Homo sapiens: one gene and its partners. The protein of the gene in region 1 interacts with the protein of each later gene in a pairwise test. Each region holds a gene or a part of one and is shown in the gene's direction. Other genes may lie near its edges.

Region 1 (7,024 bases):
GTTTTCATTAATTCAACAAGTAGCTTTAGTTGGGCCTGGCCTTATGCTAGATCCTGGGAAGTCGGCATGTTTCAGGGGGAGGCAGATGACTGAACAGGTACATCCTGTCACAGAGCCGAGGCTCACATGCTGTTCCAGGGTGACTGCGGGATGCTGTGGAAGCGGCGTGGAGCAGGCCTCTAACACAGATGCGGGGGGGAGGCTCCCTGGAGGAAGTGGTGTCTGTGTGGGGGCCTGAAGGACCCAGGAGGAGCTAGTCAGACTCGAAGAGCTCCGGGAAGGAGGAGGGAGCAGCCCAGCCCCGGCTGAGGGCAGTCAGGTGTGACGCCCACGCGGGAGGTAGCAAGAGATGAGGTGAGAGAGGCCTGAGAGCTTTGGTGAGAGTGAGGGGCCTTGCCAGAGTGGGAATCACTCGGCACCCGGCTTGATGGGGCTCACCTGCCTTTCCATGCCAAACCGTGGTTTTCCCTTTGCACACCAGTTTTGTGGGTCCTTCTCCAGAGAGTGCTGCCTTATAGTAACCCCATCTGTGAGGTATTTCCCGGATAAGGAAACTGGGGCTCGGTGGGGTGAGATCCTTGGTCTAGGCCACAGAGATTTCAGTTTGGGGAGGTCAAATGGGAATGCAAGCTTTTCTGACTTTGGATCACACTGTAACCCTAACTCTGCCCCTTTCTGTTTTTCCAAAGAGCTATTTCAAATCCGTTCATTGGTCTTTTCCTTTCTTTCCTTTAAACCTGTGGCCAGTTCAGGAGACGATTTGAATGTGGATGTTCAAGTCCCCGTCCCAGTCCTTGGCCAGTGTTTCTAGACTCTTCTGTTTCCTAGTTATTCCATCCTCTGGGGTTGGACCAGGGCTGCTAGCTCCCTTGGGAGGGTGTGCTTCTGGGGCCAGAGGGGGAGGCACTGAGGGTTCTCTTTAAGTGGGGACCCTCCCCAAGGCTTTCCCAAGCCACAGGAAAGCCCTAGCTCATCATCTTGTTGGGCCTTGGGCCGCTCCCCCTTCTCCTCTGGCCCCAGTGGCCCTTTCTATCAAATTGGTGTCCCTGGTTCCTCCTTGCTGGGTGGGTGATGCCGGATTCTGCAGCCGGCACACACCGTAGGTCCTGCCCAGAGGTGGTGGGGTTGCCATTACTGTCACTGCATCCCTGGAATTGGGTGTTCCCAGCCCCCTTTCAGATTTGGCTGAGAGCTGACAGAGGCTTGGGGGACATTAGAGGGAGATGGTCTTGCTGTCCTCCGGACTCTGGGCCCTTTAAGGAGCTGGGTGCTGGCCAGCCTGCTGCTGGTAGCAGGCTCTTTCCCTTCCTAGGGTACCGGCCAGGGGGCCAGGCGTTGGAGCTTCTGCTGAGCATTGGGACAGCTCAGGCAGCTGTTTCTGGAGGCCCCCTGAGGCATCTGTGCCCATGACCTCCATTTCTGGGTGCTCGTGGGTCAGCGCAGGTTGGGAAGGGGTGACAGATGAAGCATGGGCCCACCGGTTCCCTGGCGGCAGAGCTGTGCTTGGGCGGATACGTGCAGCAGTGGGGATGGCTCTGTGGGAGCCGCAGTTAGTGCCTGTCCAAGCAGGGGAAGGAAGGGGCTGGCAGGCCCTTGAGGGGTGGCTGGTGTTGAAGGCCCTAAAACACCACAGCTAAGTCAGAAACCAGAGGCAATAGTGCAGAGCTGGTGGAGGGAGAGCGGCAGAGGTAGTTTTCGTTTTTAATGGCTTCCTTTCTCATTTACAATTTCCCCTTCTTCCGTTTGCAGCCAGACTCATGGTTTTCAAACGGTAGCTAAAAACTAGTGGTAGTCACTTCCGCTTTCTTGAAGTTGCTAAAAGTTGCAAAGAATGGGGGTGGCGGGGTGCATGGCGCCTGCCGTAGTATCCGAATGGTCTGAGGAAAAGTACTTGAGTCACTTAGGCAAATGGGTAGAGTCTTTCTCCTGCTCCTCTGTGTTTAGCACCATCACCTTTGGGGTAGTGACCGGTCCCCTACCTGTCCTGCCAGAAAGCATCTGGACGTGGCCTCAGGGTTGGACCGGAAGAGACTTGCACCTGCTGAGCTCCTGCTGTGTCACGGCCACCTGCTTTAGCTCAATGCCTTTTCACAGCAGCCCGCCCTGGTGGGCTGTGTCTCCTTTTCACGGATGAGGAAATGAGACTCAGAGAAATCAAGCGCCTGCCCAGGTTCACCAGGAGAGTGCGAGTGAAACCCACTCTCCTGCTCCATTCGCAGGGATTCTAGCAGGCTTCATTAGGTTGGGAGAGGGGACTGAGAGGGCTTCAGGCCATAGTGCATTCAGAGGTTGTGGTGGGGGAAAGTTTTTTTCTCTTTTTTTCTGTTCTTCCATATTTGCATCTTCATTCTGTTTAGAGCCTGATAATTGAGGTCTGTAGAGTGTCGACCACTCAATTGCATTTGAGCCTTTCAGTCTATTCTGATTTTCAGAGGAGCCACTTGAGATGGAGAGTTCAGGGCGCTGCCTGGGTTCTCAGGGCCGAAGTTCTTGGATGCCGTGCACCAGCGAGCACCCTCCCGTCTCATTCTGGCTGCCCCTGCCCCAGTTGTCTGGGGAGCTCGGTTTGGAGGGGAAGCCTGACCTTTTCCCCGAAGCAGATGGTTAGTCTGTACCAGGGGTAGGGGGTTTGGGGGCCGAGGGCCATGCCTGTGCCCTTTAATCAGGTATCTTAGAAGTGAACGGTGGGCCTCAGTGTGAGAATTTCTGCCTGTTGTTTAGAGACCAGGGCACACTGGAAGCCTCTTGCTAGCCATGTGGCTCCACCCCTCTGGGCCCCTCTTCCACATGAGACTCTGTCGGAATAATAAGAATTCTTTACTTGGTCTTGATGTGGAGCCGAGACAAGTGTCTCTGCAAGTGCGGGTCCATGGATTTTCTACAGATGCTGGCTTGGTGCTGCTCCTATCCCGTCCCCACTGTGGAGGGGCTCACTTAGCTTAGAGCTGTTGGTGGTGAGGGATGGGGAAGGGGTAACCTGGGTGAGTGCCCCAGGGCTGAGCCTTGGCAGCTTCAGCTCTGCCAGGCTGGCCGGCATCTCATCAGCTCTGCGGACGCTGGGACATAGTGCAAGGCCTGAGCCTGGCCCTGGCTCTGTCCCTGCCATGGCCGATGGCCTGAGGCAGGTTTTTTTTTTTCCCCCAACAGTTTTTATTGAGATATTCTGTACAGTTCATCCATTTAGAGTGTACAGCCAGGCGCAGTGGCTCACGCCTGTAAGCCCAGCACTTTGGGAGGCCGAGGCAGGCAGATCACTTGAGGTCAGGCATTCAAGACCAGCCTGGCCAACGTGGTGAAACCCCGTCTGTACTAAAAAAATGCAAAAATTAGGCCGGGCGTGGTGATTCATGCCTGTAATCCCAGTGCTTTGGGAGGCCCAGGCAGGCGGATCACAAGGTCAGTAGTTCGAGACCAGCCTGGCCAATATGGTGAAACCCCGTCTTTACTAAAAAAACACACACAAAAATTAGCTGGGTGTGGTGGCGCACTCCTGTAATCCCAGGTACTCAGGCTGAGGTGGGAGAATTGCTTAAAACCGGGAGGCGGAGATTGCAGTGAGCCGAGATCGCGCCGCTGCACTCCAGCCTGGGTGACAGAGCGAAACTCTGTCTCAAAAAAAAAAAAAAAAAAAATCAGCCAAGAATGGTGGTGCGCACCTGTAGTCCCCACTACTCGGGAGGCTGAGGCAGGAGATATGCTTGAACCCAGGAGCTGGAGGTTGCGGTGAGCCGAGATCGCGCCACTGCACTCCAGGCTGGGTGACAGAGAGAGACTCTGTCTCAAGAAAAAAAATAATAAATAAAGGGTACAATTCAGTGGTTCTTAGTGTATTCACAACGTTGTGGAAACATCACCACAATTGATTTTGGAACTTTTTTTTAATCACCCTTTCCTTTCAGGAACTTCGCCCAATCCCCGCCAGCTCCTGGAAGCCTGTAAGCTCTTTTCTGTCTCTATGGATTTGCCTGTTCTGGATGCTTCACATAGTTGGAGGCCTGCAGTGTGTGGTTCCTTGGGACTGGCTTTGCTGGCATGGCATGGGCAGCCTATCAGCCTGCTTGGTCTCCCACGGAGAAAGAGGCTGTGTGTGTGTGCTTGCCACGTCTCGGTGCTTTGCTCGCCACAGCCTTAGGCCGGAAATTGGCAGAGTCATGATAAATTTGGCGGTTGCCCCTTGAGATTATTCTGGTCCCAGGTACACCCAGATCAGGAAATCCATTCCCCCTCCCGCTTCCCTCAGCACGCTGGTGAGTCACCTTTGCTGAGCCTGAGTTTTCTCATCTGTGACATGGACACTTGGTGGTCGGCCTGTCGCATTCCTTGTCAAGCGGGCTGGGAAGTAGGGGATGGTCCCTTGAGGAGGTCTAGCATCTGGGCAGAAGTGGGGAGGTGGGGAGTTACCACTGTGCACACAGAGGTTCCCGGAGCAAGGAAGGGAAACAGTTGTATTTCCTTGTGAGGTGGTGGTGCCTTCGTCACTCTTGACACAGGGGAAAATACACACCCATTGCCTGCCCAGGGCGATCTTGCACTTTCCCCCACCTCCTGATTTAGGGACCCCGTAGGAGTGGCTGGGAGGGGCCGGAGTGGGAGTGATTTCACTTCGTCTAACGCCCTGACAGGTACGGCAGCCTCCTGCCTGGGAGGAGCTGGGGCCTTGTGAAAATGAGGTTTGCTTTTCAGCTAATACTTGTGAGCGTTTATTGCCAGGGCCAGGTTCCATGCTAGGTGCTGCCCTCAGGTGCCCATGGTAACCTAGGGGGAAGGTTCTAGAGGAAGCATTGTAGGGCCACGAGTGTGTACCTCCAGTGCTTCATTGCTGTGTCACAGAGATGCTTCCAGGCGGCAGGTCAGAACGCACAGCTCAGGGAGACAGGGAGACAGTGGTGGACAAAGGCGGGGCTGGGGGCTGCTTGAGCCAGGCAGGCCAGGGAAGGCCCTTCTGTGAGGTGAATGCTTAGTAAGAGATCTGAGGATGAGAAAGTGAGTTATTAGGACAAAGTCGCTGGGGTAGACCCAAGCTTAGTGTGTTCTGAAAACAGAAGGCCAGCTTGGCCAGGGCAAGTAGGGAGTGGGAGGTCATTGAGGGTCCCAGGCGCTGACCCGATGAGAGGGCGGTTCTGATTTTCCCTTCAGCAAGCTCTGCATGGCTGTGGGGAGAGGGAACGAGCAGGGGTCGCCTGCGGTCGAGTGTGGGGGGCCTGCCGTCAAGTGGTGGTCATGCAGGCAGAAGGGGTGGGATGGTTATGTTTGGGGAGGTCAGCGGTGCCTGGGTCGGGGTGGGAGGCCTGATAAGTCCCTAGATTTCTGGTGGTGCTGGGTTGGAGGAGAACTCAGGCCTCTGGCCGAACTGTGCTGTCACAGCTGGGCTGGGAGGGTCCTGAGGACCACAGCCCTCCATCCTGAATCCAGGGATGTCTGTTGAGTAAGCACTAGCAGCTGGGGACAAGGTGGACAGGGAGTTTACCATCCAGACAGGTCCCTTCAGGGTGGGCCTGGAAATGGCAGGCTCCTCCCTGAGGTGAGAGTCGGGGTCACTGTGGCCAGGGCTAGTCCCTCAGGCAGAGCAAGTGCTGGAGCCGGCTCAGCGGGAACTCGCTCATTCATCCCTTAAGTGTCCACTACACAGGCCCTGTGCTGGGACAAGGGCTCTGCACCCTGAAAATACAACTTCTGAAAGCTGAGAGTGCCAGCTTCACTGCCCGCCAACCCCTGGATCGGGGCATAGGCATTTACTTTGGTGTGCCTCAGTTTCCTCTCCTGTAAAATAAGGCCATTCCCTGGAGGGTGGTTGTGAGAGTTGGTGGAGGTGATGGCTGTGAAGTCCTTTTCAGAGTAGTCAGCGCAGTGCAGGTGCTGGAGCGCAGTGGCTGATACCATCGACATCATTGCCTGGAATGCCCCCATCCACCCAGACCCGCAGGGCCTCCTGGATATCCATCCAGCACTGTGCCTCAGGCAGCCACGGGCTGTGCAGGAGACACCTGAAGTGGCAGCCCCAGGAGCACTGGCGAGGTGGCATGGGGCACGGCCTCCCCAGGGCACTGGGGTCACCGTGGGCATGGAGGTCAGTCAGTGAGCTGGCTGGGCAGGGGCACGAGAGCCTGGATGCAGGCTTGGTGGAGTGCACATCACCGAGCAGGTGCGGGTACTCATGTTTGTGCTTTAAAAGGATTTTTTTTTTTTTCCGAGACAGAGTGTTGCTCTGCCACCCAGGCTGGAGTGCAGTGGCGCAATCTCGACTCACTGCAACCTCCGCTCCCGGGTTCAGGCAGTTCTCCTGCCTCAGCCTCCCGAGTAGCTGGGACTATAGGCACACACCACCATGCCCGGCTAATTTTTGTATTTTTAGTAGACACGGGGTTTCATCATGTTGGCCAGACTGGTGTCAAACTCCTGACCCCGGGTGATCTGCCTGCCTGGGCCTCCCAAAGTGCTGGGATTATAGGCGTGAGCCACCACACCCAACCTTAGAAGGAATATTGGGAGTCTGGGCATGGTGGCTCATGCCTGTAATCCCAACACTTTGAGAGGCCCAGGTGGGCGGATCACCTGAGGTTAGGAGTTCAAGGCCAGCCTGGCTAACGTGGTGAAATCCCATCTCTACCAAAATAGAAAAATTAGCCGGGTGTGGTGGCAGATGCTTGTAGTACCAGCTACTAGGGAGGTTGAGGCGGAAGAATCGCCTGAACCCGGGAGGTGAAGGTTGAGGTGAACCTAGATTGTGCCACTGCATTCCAGCCTGGGCAACAGAGTGAGACTCCTCAAAAACAAAGGATTATTGGGAAAAGTGGACTGGTGAGGGGTAAGTGGTGAGTCACTGGGTGCTGTGGACTGGGACCTGGCAGGCCCCCCAGAGGAGCAGGGGTTCAAATGCCTGGAGGCTGCTGCTATCTCCCCTAGTCCTCCTGCTGCCGCCATGACTGTCGTTGGTCACGGAACTCTTCCCTCTGCTCCACCCTCAACTGTCATTGGCCAGGTGTAGGGACCCATATAGTGTTATATCAAGATTGTTGCCAATCTA
Region 2 (7,024 bases), on another chromosome or scaffold:
GGTGAAACCCTGTCTCTACTAAAAATACAAAAAATTAGCCGGGTGTGGTGGCGGCCGCCTGTAGTCCCAGCTACTCGGGAGACTGAGGCAGGAGAATGGCGTGAACCCGGGAGGCGGAGCTTGCAATGAGCCGAAATCATGCCACTGAACTCCAGCCTGGGTAACAGAGCGAGACTGTCTCAAAAAAAAAAAAAAAAAGAGTTTAAGAACCACCAGATCACCTGAAGAGACTCTCTTGTTTCCCTTAAAGTTCCAAATCTCTCCAGTATCTCCTCCTTAGTGCCTGCTTCTGCTGTTCCCTCGAGTCCTCCAGGTTGTTTTGCTCATGGAAAAAGGCATTAGGCTGCCTCAGCCTTTTCAGGAGATGAGGCCTCTGCTCTTAGGTAGGTTGAGGGCACGAATCTAGCTCTGAACAGGTGTCTTTCATATCCTGATGCAGACGGTGAACCTGCTCCTCAACAAGGGAGCCAGCCTGAATGTCTGTGACAAAAAGGAGCGGCAGCCTCTGCATTGGGCAGCTTTTCTAGGTGAGAGAGAATACACGGGAAAATCAGAAATTTGACATTTAGGATTCCTAGGGCAGGGATGTGGGGTTGCAGCCTTTGAAGAGAGGAGTGTAGGGTCTTAGAGTTTACCTTCTACTTCCTTTAGAGTGTCTTCTCTTTTCTCAGGGCACTTGGAGGTCCTAAAACTGCTGGTGGCACGGGGAGCAGACCTCGGCTGCAAGGACCGCAAGGGCTATGGGCTGCTCCATACAGCTGCTGCCAGTGGCCAGATTGAAGTGGTGAAGTACCTGCTTCGGATGGGAGCGGAGGTCAGGGCTTTGAGCTCTGGGGTTGGGAACTATGGGCAGCAAGTAGGAGATTATAGTCTGTTACGGAGATATGAGGTATTGGGATGTTGGTATAGTTTTGGGAAGTTGGAAGGACGTGGTAGAGAGGGTCTGAATAATGCTTACCTTAGCCATAGTGCCCTTAGTACCTTAGTACCTTGGGTCATAAACCCGAGAGGAAATGAGGCAGTCGTTGGATTTCTGGGATCTGGAGGCTACATGTGCTGGCTTCTACTTTGTTTAAACTGATACCACCTTACTCTCACCCCTGAATATCCAGATCGATGAACCCAATGCTTTTGGAAACACAGCTTTGCACATCGCCTGCTACCTGGGCCAGGATGCTGTGGCTATTGAGCTGGTGAATGCCGGAGCCAATGTCAACCAGCCGAATGACAAGGGCTTCACGCCACTGCATGTGGCTGCAGTCTCCACCAATGGCGCTCTCTGCTTGGAGCTACTGGTTAATAATGGGGCTGACGTCAACTACCAGGTGCCTGAAGGGATAAGGCTTAGACCAGTGGGGAGCGAAACTTGGATCTAGGGGTCCTGACTGTATCTGGATAGCTCTCTTGGGGAATTATCCACTTGCTTCCTAGGGTAATCAGACCTTGCCAGGGACTCAGGAAAGAGTGGGCTAAGAAGGTGCCATATGACCCTTTTGTCCTTAGAGATATGTCCTTGGAAGGGAGGTAGGGCATTCTCTGTGCTTTGCACTGGAAAAAAAAACAAAAACAAAAACCCACCATGTTTCCACAGAGCAAAGAAGGGAAAAGTCCTCTGCACATGGCTGCAATCCATGGCCGTTTCACACGCTCCCAGATCCTCATCCAGAATGGTATGGACCTGGGAGACTTTGTGCTCTCATCCCCTCCTCCCCCAAGGAACTCATTTCTAGAATCTAGGGAGGTTCCTAACTTCCTTCTCCTGCCCTCTTCCAGTAGGATAGGCCCTTGGAACTCTGACCAAGGGACCTGTGGAAATGGCCCTGCTCTGCCCTGCCCAGTCTCCTAAGGCCTAGAAACAGGATAAAATATGTAGAATCCTGGGCCTGGCACCTGATGCATACATAGTAGGCACTCAAATCATGGCTAGCTCGCGAAAGTGGTCTTAAGCCTGAGGTCTGCCTGAGCTTGTGTGTGTGCATCCCCTCACAGGCAGCGAGATTGATTGTGCCGACAAATTTGGGAACACGCCACTGCATGTGGCTGCTCGATATGGACACGAGCTGCTCATCAGCACCCTCATGACCAATGGCGCAGATACCGCCCGGTGAGTCAGGGCCCCGACTCCACTTCTGGGCTGCCCAGATCTGCACAGACTGCTCACATCAACCATGGAGGCACAGATAAGCTTGCCAAAGGGCACCTTGGAGAACCTCCTACCCTGACTCTAGGGTGGTGGTAGGTCACAGAAGAGGTCTTACTTGGTCCCTCCTTGACCCAAGGACTGAGTCCCTCAACTTCTCTCTAGGCGTGGCATCCATGACATGTTCCCCCTGCACTTAGCTGTTCTCTTTGGATTCTCTGACTGTTGTCGTAAGCTTCTTTCCTCAGGTATGTGCTGATGGGCTGGGGATTGGCAGGTGTATAGGAGAGCAAAGGCCTTTCCCTCCCTGCTGAACACTCTCAGATGTGACCTGTGGCTGTTCTGTGCCTCCAGGTCAGTTGTACAGCATTGTGTCTTCACTCAGCAATGAGCATGTGCTTTCAGCTGGGTTTGACATCAATACACCTGACAACCTTGGCCGTACCTGTCTTCATGCTGCTGCTTCCGGAGGGTGAGTTCTCTTTCTCTCTCCCATGCTTTGAGCAGGGAGCTGGGCAAAGGTCTGGGCCCCTCATTCTTGCCTGCCCAGATCTATTCCCCCTCTCACAATGAAAGCAGTCACAGCAGAAAGGGCTTGCTAGTCCCATCCTTCCTTAGCCCCACCCTGGGCCTGTGGCTTCCCTTTGAGGCTGTAACTCTCTTAACACATCTTTCTTTTAGGAATGTTGAATGTCTTAATTTGCTGTTGAGCAGTGGAGCTGACTTGAGGAGGAGGGACAAATTTGGCAGGTATGCTAATATGCAGGGGTAAACATAGGGAATATCTGATTAGAGAAACAAATGGTAGAGGGAGGAAGGGTTTAGATTGGAGACTTAAATAAGGAGAATGTTACAAAGCAGCATTTGGCTGCACATCTGATTGCATTCGTATCTGTCTCTGATTCTCTTCCCCACCCTCCTTCACTTCTTCCCCAGGACCCCACTGCACTATGCAGCTGCTAACGGTAGCTACCAGTGTGCAGTAACATTGGTGACTGCTGGGGCAGGTGTCAACGAGGCCGACTGTAAAGGCTGCTCTCCCCTCCACTACGCTGCCGCTTCTGACACTTACAGGAGGTGAGGCTACCAGTCTGGTCCTTCTCAGCCCCATTCACCTCCCTGAGCCTGGCCCTAACTTTCTCTCTCTCTTCCCCAGAGCGGAACCCCATACACCTTCCAGCCATGATGCCGAAGAGGACGAGCCACTGAAGGAGTCCCGCAGGAAGGAGGCCTTCTTGTGAGTAGCAGAGAGGGCCCCTGGGATGTGCTTTCCCCAACCCATGCAAGCTCTGGCCCTACTGTCCTCCTACCTAATCTGAACCTCTACCCTATACTGCTGCTGTCCTGCCGGTCAGCCAGCAGTGTGTCTTGAGCCCTCTGGGTGTAGTCCATAGTGGGCAAAGACAAAAGTATGAGATTGAAGCTCAGGAGCTTCAGGGGGAAAAAAAAACCCAAAAGTATGAGACATAGTTCCTTCCCTAAAGGAATGGATTTTTTTTTTTTTTTTTTTTTTGGAGACAGAGTCTCACTCTGTTGCCCAGGCTGGAATGCAGTGGTGTGATCTCAGCTCACCGCGCCCGGCTGGTCTTCTTGAGAGGATTAGAAAAGCTAAATGTACAAAATAATTTGTTTATTCCACAAGCATTAATTAAATATTTACTTACTAGGTTCCAAGTACTGTGCTAGATACTAAGGATAAAAGATGAGGCTGGGCGTAGTGGCTCAAGCTTGTAATCCTAGCACTTAGGGAGGCTGAGGTAGGCAGATCACCTGAGGTTAGGAGTTCAAGACCAGCTTGACCAACATGGTGAAACCCCGTCTCTACTAAAAATACAAAAAATTAACCAGGTGTGGTGGCACACGCCTATAATCCCAGCTACTCAGGAGGCCGAGGCAGGAGAATTGCTTGAACCAGGGAGGTGGAGGTTGTAGTGAGCCGAGATCACGCCACTGCACTCCAGCCTGGGCAACCGAACAAGACTCTGTCTCAAAAAAATTAAAATTAAAAATAGGCCGGGTGTGGTGGTTCACGCCTATAATCCCAGCACTTTGGGAGGCCGAGGCAGGCAGATCATCTGAGGTCAGGAGTTCGAGACCAGCCTGGCCAACGTGGTGAAACCCCGTCTCTACTAAAAATATAAAAATTAGCTGGTCATGTTGGCAGGCACCTGTAATCCCAGCTACTCGGGTGGCTAAGGCAGGAGAATCACTTGAACCAGGGAGGTGGAGGTTGCAGTGAGTCAAGATCACACTAATCCACTCCAACCTGGGCGACAGAGTGAGACTCTGTCTCCAAAAAAACAAATAAATAAATAAAATTAAATAAAAATTTAAAAAGGATGAATTGTCCCAAATTTCTGTCTTTCGAAAGCTAATAATCTATTGGGAAAGATAAATAAAAGGACACTTATGCATACTAATGTAAGATGTTAATGACGGGAAACTAGGTATAGGTTATGTGAGAACTCCCTGTACTATCTTCACAATTTTTCTTTTTCTTTCTTTTTTTTTTTTTTTAATTAATTTATTTTGTAGGTCAGGGATCTCTCTGTGTTGCCCACACTGGTCTCGAACTCCTGGGCTCAAGCAATCCTCCTGCCTCAGACTCCCAAAGTGCTGGGATTACAGATATGAGCCACCACACCTAGCCCACAATTTTTCTATAAATCTAATAATATTCTAAAACAAAAAGTTTATTTTTTGCTGGGCACGGTGGCACATGCATATATTCCCAGTTATTCAGGAGGCAGGTGCAGGTAAGGCAAGAGGATCATGCAAACCCAGGAGTTTGAGGCTGTAGTGCACTATGATCATGCCTATGAATAGCCACTGCACCCCAGCCTGGGCAGCCTAGTGAGACCCCGTCTCTAAAAAAAAAAAAAACCCACAAAAATCAGGTAGGCACAGTGACTCATGCCTGTAATTCCAGCACTGAGGTGGGAGGATTGCTTGAGCCCAGGAGTATGAGACCAGCCTGGCTAACACATAATGAGAACTCATCTCTATTTTATTTAATTAAATAAATAAATAAATTAATTAATTTATTTATTTATTTGAGATGGAGTCTTGCTCTGTCACCCAGGCTCTAGTGCAGTTGCGCGATCTCAGCTCACTGCAACCTCTACCTCCGGGGTTCAAGCGATTCTCCTGCCTCTTCCTCCTGAGTAGCTGGGATTACAGGTGCCTATCACCACGCCCAGCTAATTGTTTTTTTGAAGACCGAGTCTCACTCTGTTGCCCAGGCTGGAGTGCAGTGGCATGAACTTGGCTCACTGCAACCTCCACCTCCTGGGTTCAAGCAATTCTGCCTCAGCCTCCTGAGTAGCTGGGACTACAGGAGCACGCTGCCACGCCTGGCTAATTTTTTGTATTTTAGTACAGACGGGGTTTCACCATGTTGCCCAGGCTGGTCTTGAACTCCCGAGCTCAGGCGATCCACCTGCCTTGGCCTCCCAAAGTGCTAGGATTGCAGGCGTGAGCCACCACGCCCAGCCTAATTTTTGTATTTTTAGTAGAAACAGGGTTTCGCCATGTTGGCGAGGCTGGCCACGAACTCCTGACCGCGGGTGATCTGCCCACCTCAGCCTCCTAAAGTGCTGGAATTAAAGATGTGAGCAACCGAGCCAGGCCCCTGTCTCCATTTAAAATAAGTAAATTAAATAATTTTTTTTTAAGATTTATTTTTTTAAAAAGGACACTAAAATCCAAGAGGCTCAGCTATTACCTTCAGCAAGTTACTTCTCTATGCCTCAATTTCATCACCCACAGTAAGGATAAAAATAGTATCTACTTCATGGGATCTTTATGAGGATTAAATTATTTAATATACATGAAGTACTTAGAACTGTGCTTGACAGTAAGTGCTACTTTATTATTATTACTACTACTACAACTACTACTAAGGTATGAGAAGACTGCCAAGGGAGCACAGAGGAAGAGGCATCTTCCCCAGGGAAGGCTGGGAAAGGCCTCACAGAGGAGAGAAGCTGGGACTGAGTTTGAGATGAACAGGACTTATTCGGGTGGGCTGGGAGGAGAAAGCATCCTAGGGCAGGGGTTGGCGTGCCTGGAGGTGGGGAAAGCATGTTGGTCAGCAGAAGGCTGATAACTGAACATCATGCTCTAGGTTCTCTAGGAGAGCATTCAGAGGATAAAGGAGGGCATTGAAGCCAGAGGGGTTCAGGGCAGACCTTGAGAAGGTAAAGTGGGTCTGGAGCTGCCATTGAAGAATGGGTAGGATTTAGAGAACCTACCTAGAGCTGAGGACGGGTGGCGGCCAGGTAGGCCTGGAGGGCCTTGGTCCTCTCCTCTGGCCCTCCCAGAACTGTGCCCTCCTGGGCTGGGCCTGTCCCTGCCTCACAGTCTACCCCCGGCTCCCCAGCTGTCTGGAGTTCTTACTGGATAACGGTGCAGACCCCTCCCTGCGGGACAGGCAGGGCTACACAGCTGTGCACTATGCAGCCGCCTATGGCAACAGACAGAACCTCGAACTGGTATGTGTTGGGGCCCGGCCTGCAGGAGGGGAGGCAGGGGCAGGGCACAGGGTTTGTGGATTCCAAAACTAAGGGTTCAATCAAATGTGGTCTTTGGATCCAGAGGCTTAGTGGGGATTACTGCGAGTCGGGGACTGGGGTACTATCTTGGGAGTTCCAGAGTCTCAGCACCTACTTTCCTGTCCTTTGCAGCTCTTAGAAATGTCCTTTAACTGCCTGGAGGATGTGGAGAGCACCATTCCAGTCAGCCCTTTGCACTTAGCTGTGAGTCCCACGTCTTTTTTCTGTTGCCTTCCTTGTCCTACCTGTTCCCAGGCCCTAACAAAGGTGCCAGCACTTGTGAAGTTATCCTTCCTTCTGCCTTTTTGTGGGAGAGGGGATAAGCACAGTG
Region 3 (7,024 bases), on another chromosome or scaffold:
ACTTGTATTTGTTTCTTTTTTTTTCTTAAAAAAATTTTTAATCTTTTTTTTGGTGGGGGAGCGGGGACATGGTCTCACTCTCACCCATGCTGTAGTGTGGTGGCACAATCATGGCTCATTGCAGCCTCGACCTCCTGGGCTCAGGCAGTCCTCCCACCTTAGCCTCCTGAGAAGCTGGGACCACAGGCACATGCCCCCATGACCAGCTAATTTTTATTTATTTTTTTGGTAGAGACAGGGTCTTGCTATGTTACCCAGGCCAGTCTTGAACTCCTGGGCTCAAGCGATCCTCCCACCTTGGCTTCCCAAAATGCTGGGATAACAGGCATGAGCCACTATACTTGGCCTGTATCCATTTCTTAATAAACTTAAAAATATATGTTTTGGGCAACCAAGACAAAAGTATTCTGAATTTTTCTTTATAGGTAGAGACTTTTTTTTCTGTCTTGGAAATGCTTTTATCAGATTAATTTGTTGTGTTGCTCATCTCTGGTGTATTTAAAGAAATTTAATTTTTTTCTGTTTCTTGGCATGAAGTGCAACCTAAAATTAGGCCAAGAAAGTATGCCAGGAGTACTTTTTCTGAGGCTGTAAAGGCAAAATAAAACATTCTATTAAGAAAAGTAATCATTGAGGCCACTTAATGAGCAAGATGGAAAAGATTTGTTCTGTAGAAAAGAAGACAGAAATTTACTTGTGTTTTAAATTGATTAGAAGATAAAATACTAAATGCATACGATGTTCCAGATTTAATCACAATTTCTGTTTCGCTAAGTTGGAAATGGTCACATCACTAGTACTGGATCAAATCTACATAACTGTTTTTGTTTGTTTGTTCGCTCTTGTTGCTCAGGGTGGAGTGCAATGGCGTGAGCTTGGCTCACTGCAACCTCTGCCTCCCGGGTTCAAGCGATTCTCCTGCCTCAGCCTTCCTGAGTAGCTGTGATTACAGGCATGTGCCACCACGCCCAGTTAATTTTGTATTTTTAGTAGAGACCAGGTTTCCCCATGTTGTTCAGGCTGGTCTCGAACTCCTCACCTCAGATGATGCACCCACCTCGGCCTCCCAAAGTGCTGGGATTATAGGTGTGAGCCTGGCCTGTTAGTTTGTTTTTTTGAGACGGAGTCTTGCTCTGTTGCCCAGGCTAGAGTGCAGGTGCACGTTCTCAGCTCACTGCAACCTCCGCCTCCCGGATTCAAGCGATTCTCCTGCCTCAGCCTCCTGAGTAGCTGGGATTACAGGCACCCACCACCACTCCTGGCTAATTTTTGTATTTTTAGTAGAGATGGGGTTTCACCATGTTGGCCAGGCTGGTCTCAAACTCCTGACCTCAGGTGATCCACCCTTCTCAGCCTCCCAAAGTGCTGGGATTACAGGCGTGAGCCACCATGCCTGGCATACATAACAGTTTTGAAGGAATAAGAATGACATATGTGGGCCGGGAGGCTGAGGCAGGAGAATTGCTTGAGCCTGGGAGATGGAGGTTGCAGTGAGCCGAGATCATGCCACTGCACTCCAGCCTGGCCAACAGAGCGAGACCCTGTCTCAAAAAAAAAAAAAAATGACATATGTGAAAGTAAATGGACCACAGTGTAACCTTTCTTATAAAGAGCTCATGTGATTTTATCCACAAGAAAGATTTCAGAGAGATTAATAAAAGATACAGATTCCATACCTGGCTAAATGGAAGAATTAATGATAAAGGCAGGTTTACTGAATACTTATATTTAAGTATTAATATTTTTGGGGAGCAGGGGTTCTATAACTTGGAGGTTGTCTAATCTCTTGGACAGTTCTTAAGGGTGACATGTTTACCTGAGGTTTTTTTTTTTTTTTTTTTTTTGAGACTGAATCTAACTCTATTGCCCAGGCTGGAGTACAGTGGTACCATCTCAGCTCACTGCAGTCTCCACCTCCTGGGTTCAAGCAGTTCTGCCTCAGCTGGGATTACAGGTGCGCACTACCACACCCAGCTAATTTTTGTATATATATATTTTTTGGTAGAGATGGGGTTTCACCATGTTGGCCAGGCTGGTCTCGAACTTCTGGCCTCAGGTGATCCGCCCACCTCGGCCTCCCAAAGTGTTGGGATTACAGATGTGAGCCACTGTGTTTGGCCATTCCTTATTTGTGTTTTCCACAATTTTAGAACACTGCCCTGTATGTGATAATCAGTAAAGGTTTATTGACTCAAACTGTTTACTGCTTTATGACAAATACTTGTTTCTTCTTCTTCTTTTTTTTTTTTTCTTTGAGGTAGGGTCTCAGTCTGCTGCCCAGGGTGGAGTGCAGTGGTGCAGTTGTAGCTTGCTGCAACCTCAAACTCCTGGGCTCAATTGATCCTTCTGCCTCAGCCTCAAAAGTAGCTGGGAGTACAGGTGTGCAATAGTGTGCCCAGCTGATTAATTATTATTTTTATTTTTGAGATGGAGTCTCACTCTGTCACCAGGCTGGAGTGTAATGGCGCGATCTCGGCTCACTGCAACCTCTGCCTCCTGGGTTCAAACAATTCTCCTGCCTCAGCCTCCCAAGTAGCTGGGACTACAGATGCATGCCACCATGCCTGGCTAGTTTTTTGGTATTTTTGGTAAAGATGGGGTTTCACTGTGTTTGCCAGGATGGTCTCAATCTCCTGACCTCGTGATCCACCCGCCTTGGCCTCCCAAAGTGCAGGGATTATAGGCGTTAGCCACCGCGCCTGGCAAAAAAAAAATTTTTTTAAGGGATAGCGTCTTGCTATGCTGTCCAGGCTGGTCCCAAATGCTTCAGGTGATTCTCCTGCCTTGGCCTCCCAAAATGCTGAGATTATAGGTGTGAGCCACTGTGCCCAGCCAACAAACACTTATTTACATGGTTCCTTGTGTTGAGTACTGTTCCCTGTGGGTGCCAGGGGCAGAATTGGATACTTGTGTCTGCCTTTGAGGGGCTTTCAATATAGTAAGGGAGGTAAGGAGGTAAACAAAGACTGTAATAGAGGCTGACCAGGGTGTTGGCAAACAGAAGAAGCAGTATGTAACTTTAGAGTCAGAGATGATTTCATAAAGGAGCAGTTACGAGGGGCAGAGTTCAGGTAGACAAAATGAGAAGGAAAGAACATGCAAACAGAATAAACACCATGTGCAATAGTATAATGTAATTTGCAAGAACATGGCTGGTTCGGGGAACTTGAAGTGGTTTGGTATGGCTGGAGGTGGTACTGGAAAGAAAGATGCCAAATCATAGAAGAGTAGGCTGTTAAACTTAGATTGTTATTTTTTAGGTGGTGCATGAACACTATGAAATGTTTTTATATTTTAGGGAAAAATCATACTGTGATTCGTGATACTGTTTAAAATGTAGCTAACTAAAAATAAAAGTAGATTCAAAGAAAATTATTACAGGGATACACTGTTGTATGTGGTAGGAATATGACAAAATAATGAAAATGGTATTTGGTGTTTGGGAAACACTGCCATAAATGGAGGAATACGCTTGAGGAGTTTTTAAGAAGGAGAATGACAGTAGGCTTTTGAAATGTTTATTCTGGCAGCATTGTGGACCATGGATTGGAATGCAGGAAAAATGTCATAGAAGCAGTAGGCCCGGTGATATGAGAGTCTGAGATAAGGCAATGATAAGTGATTGTTGTGTTGGAAAGGAAATGAAGAAGGTATAGTGGCACCTGTTAACAGATTTGGTCTAGGTTATGATGAAGAGAGTTTAGCATAATTTTTTAGTTTCTGGCAAGGATTACTTAGTACTATAACTAGATTAAGGAATACGGGAAGTTTGGTTTGGGCCATATTGAGTTTGAGATGCTGCCAAGCTAAGACATTGAGATAGAGGTGTCCAGAATTACTCTTGGATACTTATGTTACTTAGATAACAACTACTTGTTGATTGCCAAATGTGCTCTAAACACTGTTCTAATAGTATTAAACGCAGGAGAAAGATCTAGACCAGTCGTTCTCAACTGGGGGCAATTTTGCCCCCCAAAGAATTTTTGGCAGTGTCTGGAGACATTTTTGGTTGTCACAGCTGGGTCAGGGGAGGGGTGGGAAGTTACTATGGGTATCTAGTAGGCGTAGATGTCGGAGATTTTGCTAAACATCCACAAGACAGCAAGCAGTCCCCTGCAATGAATAATTAGTAGTGCCATGGTTGAGAAACTCTGATCTGGCCTGAGGATACAGATACTACCTTCTGGATCATAAGCGTGTGAATATCATGGTCATTCCAGATTTCTAACTTCTCATTCCCAGTGATCTGTATTATAGTAGAGACTTTATATAAAGACTGTGTGAAATATAATGTTAGCTAGATATTTATTTAGTTAGTTACTTAGCTAGCTAGTTGAGATGAGGTTTTGCTATGTTGCCCAAGCTAGTCTTGAGCTCTGGGCCTCCAGCCATCTTCTTGCCTTGGCCTCCCAAAATGCTCATTTTACAGGTGTGAGCCACCACACCTGGCAGTGAGATCTTTTTTTTTAAAGCTAAGAGTGTTTTATAAATACCAGTATGTAAAAGTAGATAAAGGAAGTAGTATGTTTTAGATAACAAGATCAACTAAACAAGTAATTTTAAAAGTTTAGAACCCAGTGTTTGTGAGGGCAAGAGGGAACTGGGAGACAGAACAGAGAATAGAATGGAACTGTGAACAAATGTCTTGAGGAAAAGGTAGAGAAGAGACATAGAGGTCTGCTAAGAATGATGGCTATGAACCCCTTCCTGTTCAAGGATTAGAAAGTAGTTGGGCACCAAACATATGAAAAAGAGCACTGGTCATTAAAGAAATGCAAATCAAAACCGCAATGAGATACCATCTCACGCCAGTTAGAATGGCAATCATTAAAAAGTTAGGAAACAACAGGTGCTGGAGACGATTTGGAGAAATAGGAACACTTTTACACTGTTGGTGGGAGTGCAAATTAGTTCAACTGTTGTGGAAGACAGTGTAGCGATTCCTCAAGGATCTAGAACTAGAAATGCCATTTGGCCCAGCAATCCCATTACTGGGTATATACCCAAAGGATTATAAATCATTCTACTATAAAGATGCATGCACTTGCATGTTTACTGCAGCACTATTCACAATAGCAAAGACTTGGAACTAGCTCAAATGCCCATCGATGATAGACTGGTTAAAGAAAATGTGGCACATATACACCATGGAATACTTTGCAGGGACATGGATGAAGCTGGAAACCATCATTCTCAGCAAACTAACACAGGAACAGAAAACGAAACACCGCATGTTCTCACTCGTAAGCGGGAGTTGAACAATGAGAACATATGGGCAGAGGGGAGGGGAACATCACATGCTGGGGCCTGTCAGGGGGTCCGGGGTAAAGGGAGGGATATCATTAGGAGAAATACCGATTGTAGATGATGGGTTGATGGGTGCAGGAAACCACCATGGCACGTGGATACCTAAGTAACAAACCTGCACGTTCTGCACATGTGTCCCAGAACTTAAGTATAATAAAAAATAAATAAATAGAAAACAGAACACAAAAAAAGAAAGAAAAAATATTTGGGCACGATGAGGAGAAAGGGGTATAGTTTACCCTAAATTTGGGATAAAGCTGTAAAGGGTTTGGGAGGAGAGGAGCATGTGTCTTTACTATGATGACAAGGCAGGGCTCTTTGAGGCCGCTGTGAGTGTAGTTGATTGAGTCACGTAGCGTTTATAGTGAGATTGCATAGACTTCTTATTTTTGTGTGCGCGTGATAGCGATTTGTAAGCTACTGCCAAACTAGAGATGAGAGGCAATAGCTTTGGCTTAGAGACATAGCTCTCTAAATCCTCAGTTGGGGTCAGCAGAGGTGGCAGTCGTAGGACGCAGCTGTAATTTTACTCTAGTTAGTGTGCCTGGGCCCTGGTTGAAGGCTGCTGCTAGGTAGTTTACACGTGTTCTCCAGACACTCAATCTTTCAGATTGACAGAGTTTCACAGCGATGTTCTTCAGTTTATAGTCCACTGTTATTTTCAGGCTAGCACATAGTGTATGGGGTGATAACCAGGGATGACTTCAAGTTTAGGAGGCCTTATGGACTAGGAGAACCAGTTACATGTCAGCGAAAATTCTGGCACATTGAAATATGGGAACCGGCCAGACACAGTGGCTCACGCCTGTAACCCCAGCACTTTGGGAGGCTAAGGTGGGTGTATCACCTGAGGTCAGGAGTTTGAGACCAGCCTGGCCAACATGGCGAAACCCTGTCTCTACTAAAAATACAAAAATTAACCAGGCATGGTGGCGTGTGCCGTAATCCCAGCTACTGGGGGGCTGAGGCAGGAGAATCGCTTGAACCTGGGAGGCGGAGGGTGTAGTGAGCCAAGATCACGCCATTGCACTGCAGCCTGGGTGACAAGAGCGAAACTCCATCTCAAAAAAAGAAAAAATTACAGGCCAAACTTAGAATCATTCATCAGTTCCTGGCATATTTGTTCTTTAATGCAAATAGGTTGCAAACTTTGGATGCTAATTATTATAAAAATAAATATGTATCATAGGTCTAATGGATTATTAATAGAAGTAGGATGCTGTGCAACACTGATATTTTGAAATTGACTGGAAAGACAGCCGTCTATCCACAAGGACTAACTGGATTGAGTGGTTGTGGTCAAGGTTGTGATTATTATTATTTATGAGGTAATACATAGGGCTGTGGGGTGTTGGTATGGGGATGAGGGGAGTGACTGCTAATGTGTATATGGTTTCTTTTTGGGGTGATGAAAGTGTCCTAAAATTGATTATGGTGATGGTTGCCACCACTGTGAATATAATGAAAACCATTGACTCTTACCCTTCAAAGGGATGCATTTTATGTAGGTGAATTATGTTGCAATAGTTGTTTTAAAAAATTATATTCGGGCTGGGTGTGATGCTCACACTTGTAATCCTAGCACTTTGGGAGGCTGAGGCGGGTGGATCACCTGAGGTCAGGAGCTCGAGACCAGCCTGGCCAACGTGGTGAAACCCCATCTCTACTAAAAATATAAAAATTAGCTGGGTGTGGTGGCAGGTGCCTGTAATCCCAG

What was found.
Region 2: the proteins of PPP6R1 (region 1) and ANKRD52 interact in binary tests that used the Homo sapiens proteins (3 or more experiments, as listed by UniProt).
Region 3: the proteins of PPP6R1 (region 1) and PPP6C interact in binary tests that used the Homo sapiens proteins (3 or more experiments, as listed by UniProt).

What each region holds. Positions count from the first base shown.
Region 1 is NC_000019.10:55,249,005-55,256,028, reverse strand, and holds part of PPP6R1 (serine/threonine-protein phosphatase 6 regulatory subunit 1), read left to right. Parts: intron 1-255; exon of another isoform or gene 256-354; intron 355-2,437; exon of another isoform or gene 2,438-2,600; coding exon of another isoform or gene 2,601-2,603; intron 2,604-3,899; coding exon of another isoform or gene 3,900-3,935; intron 3,936-7,024. UniProt on the Homo sapiens protein: Regulatory subunit of protein phosphatase 6 (PP6). May function as a scaffolding PP6 subunit. Involved in the PP6-mediated dephosphorylation of NFKBIE opposing its degradation in response to TNF-alpha.
Region 2 is NC_000012.12:56,248,368-56,255,391, reverse strand, and holds part of ANKRD52 (serine/threonine-protein phosphatase 6 regulatory ankyrin repeat subunit C), read left to right. Parts: intron 1-439; coding exon 440-527; intron 528-671; coding exon 672-814; intron 815-1,112; coding exon 1,113-1,325; intron 1,326-1,591; coding exon 1,592-1,670; intron 1,671-1,989; coding exon 1,990-2,104; intron 2,105-2,305; coding exon 2,306-2,388; intron 2,389-2,494; coding exon 2,495-2,612; intron 2,613-2,821; coding exon 2,822-2,890; intron 2,891-3,076; coding exon 3,077-3,217; intron 3,218-3,296; coding exon 3,297-3,377; intron 3,378-6,521; coding exon 6,522-6,633; intron 6,634-6,825; coding exon 6,826-6,897; intron 6,898-7,024. UniProt on the Homo sapiens protein: Putative regulatory subunit of protein phosphatase 6 (PP6) that may be involved in the recognition of phosphoprotein substrates.
Region 3 is NC_000009.12:125,179,787-125,186,810, reverse strand, and holds part of PPP6C (serine/threonine-protein phosphatase 6 catalytic subunit), read left to right. Parts: intron 1-7,024.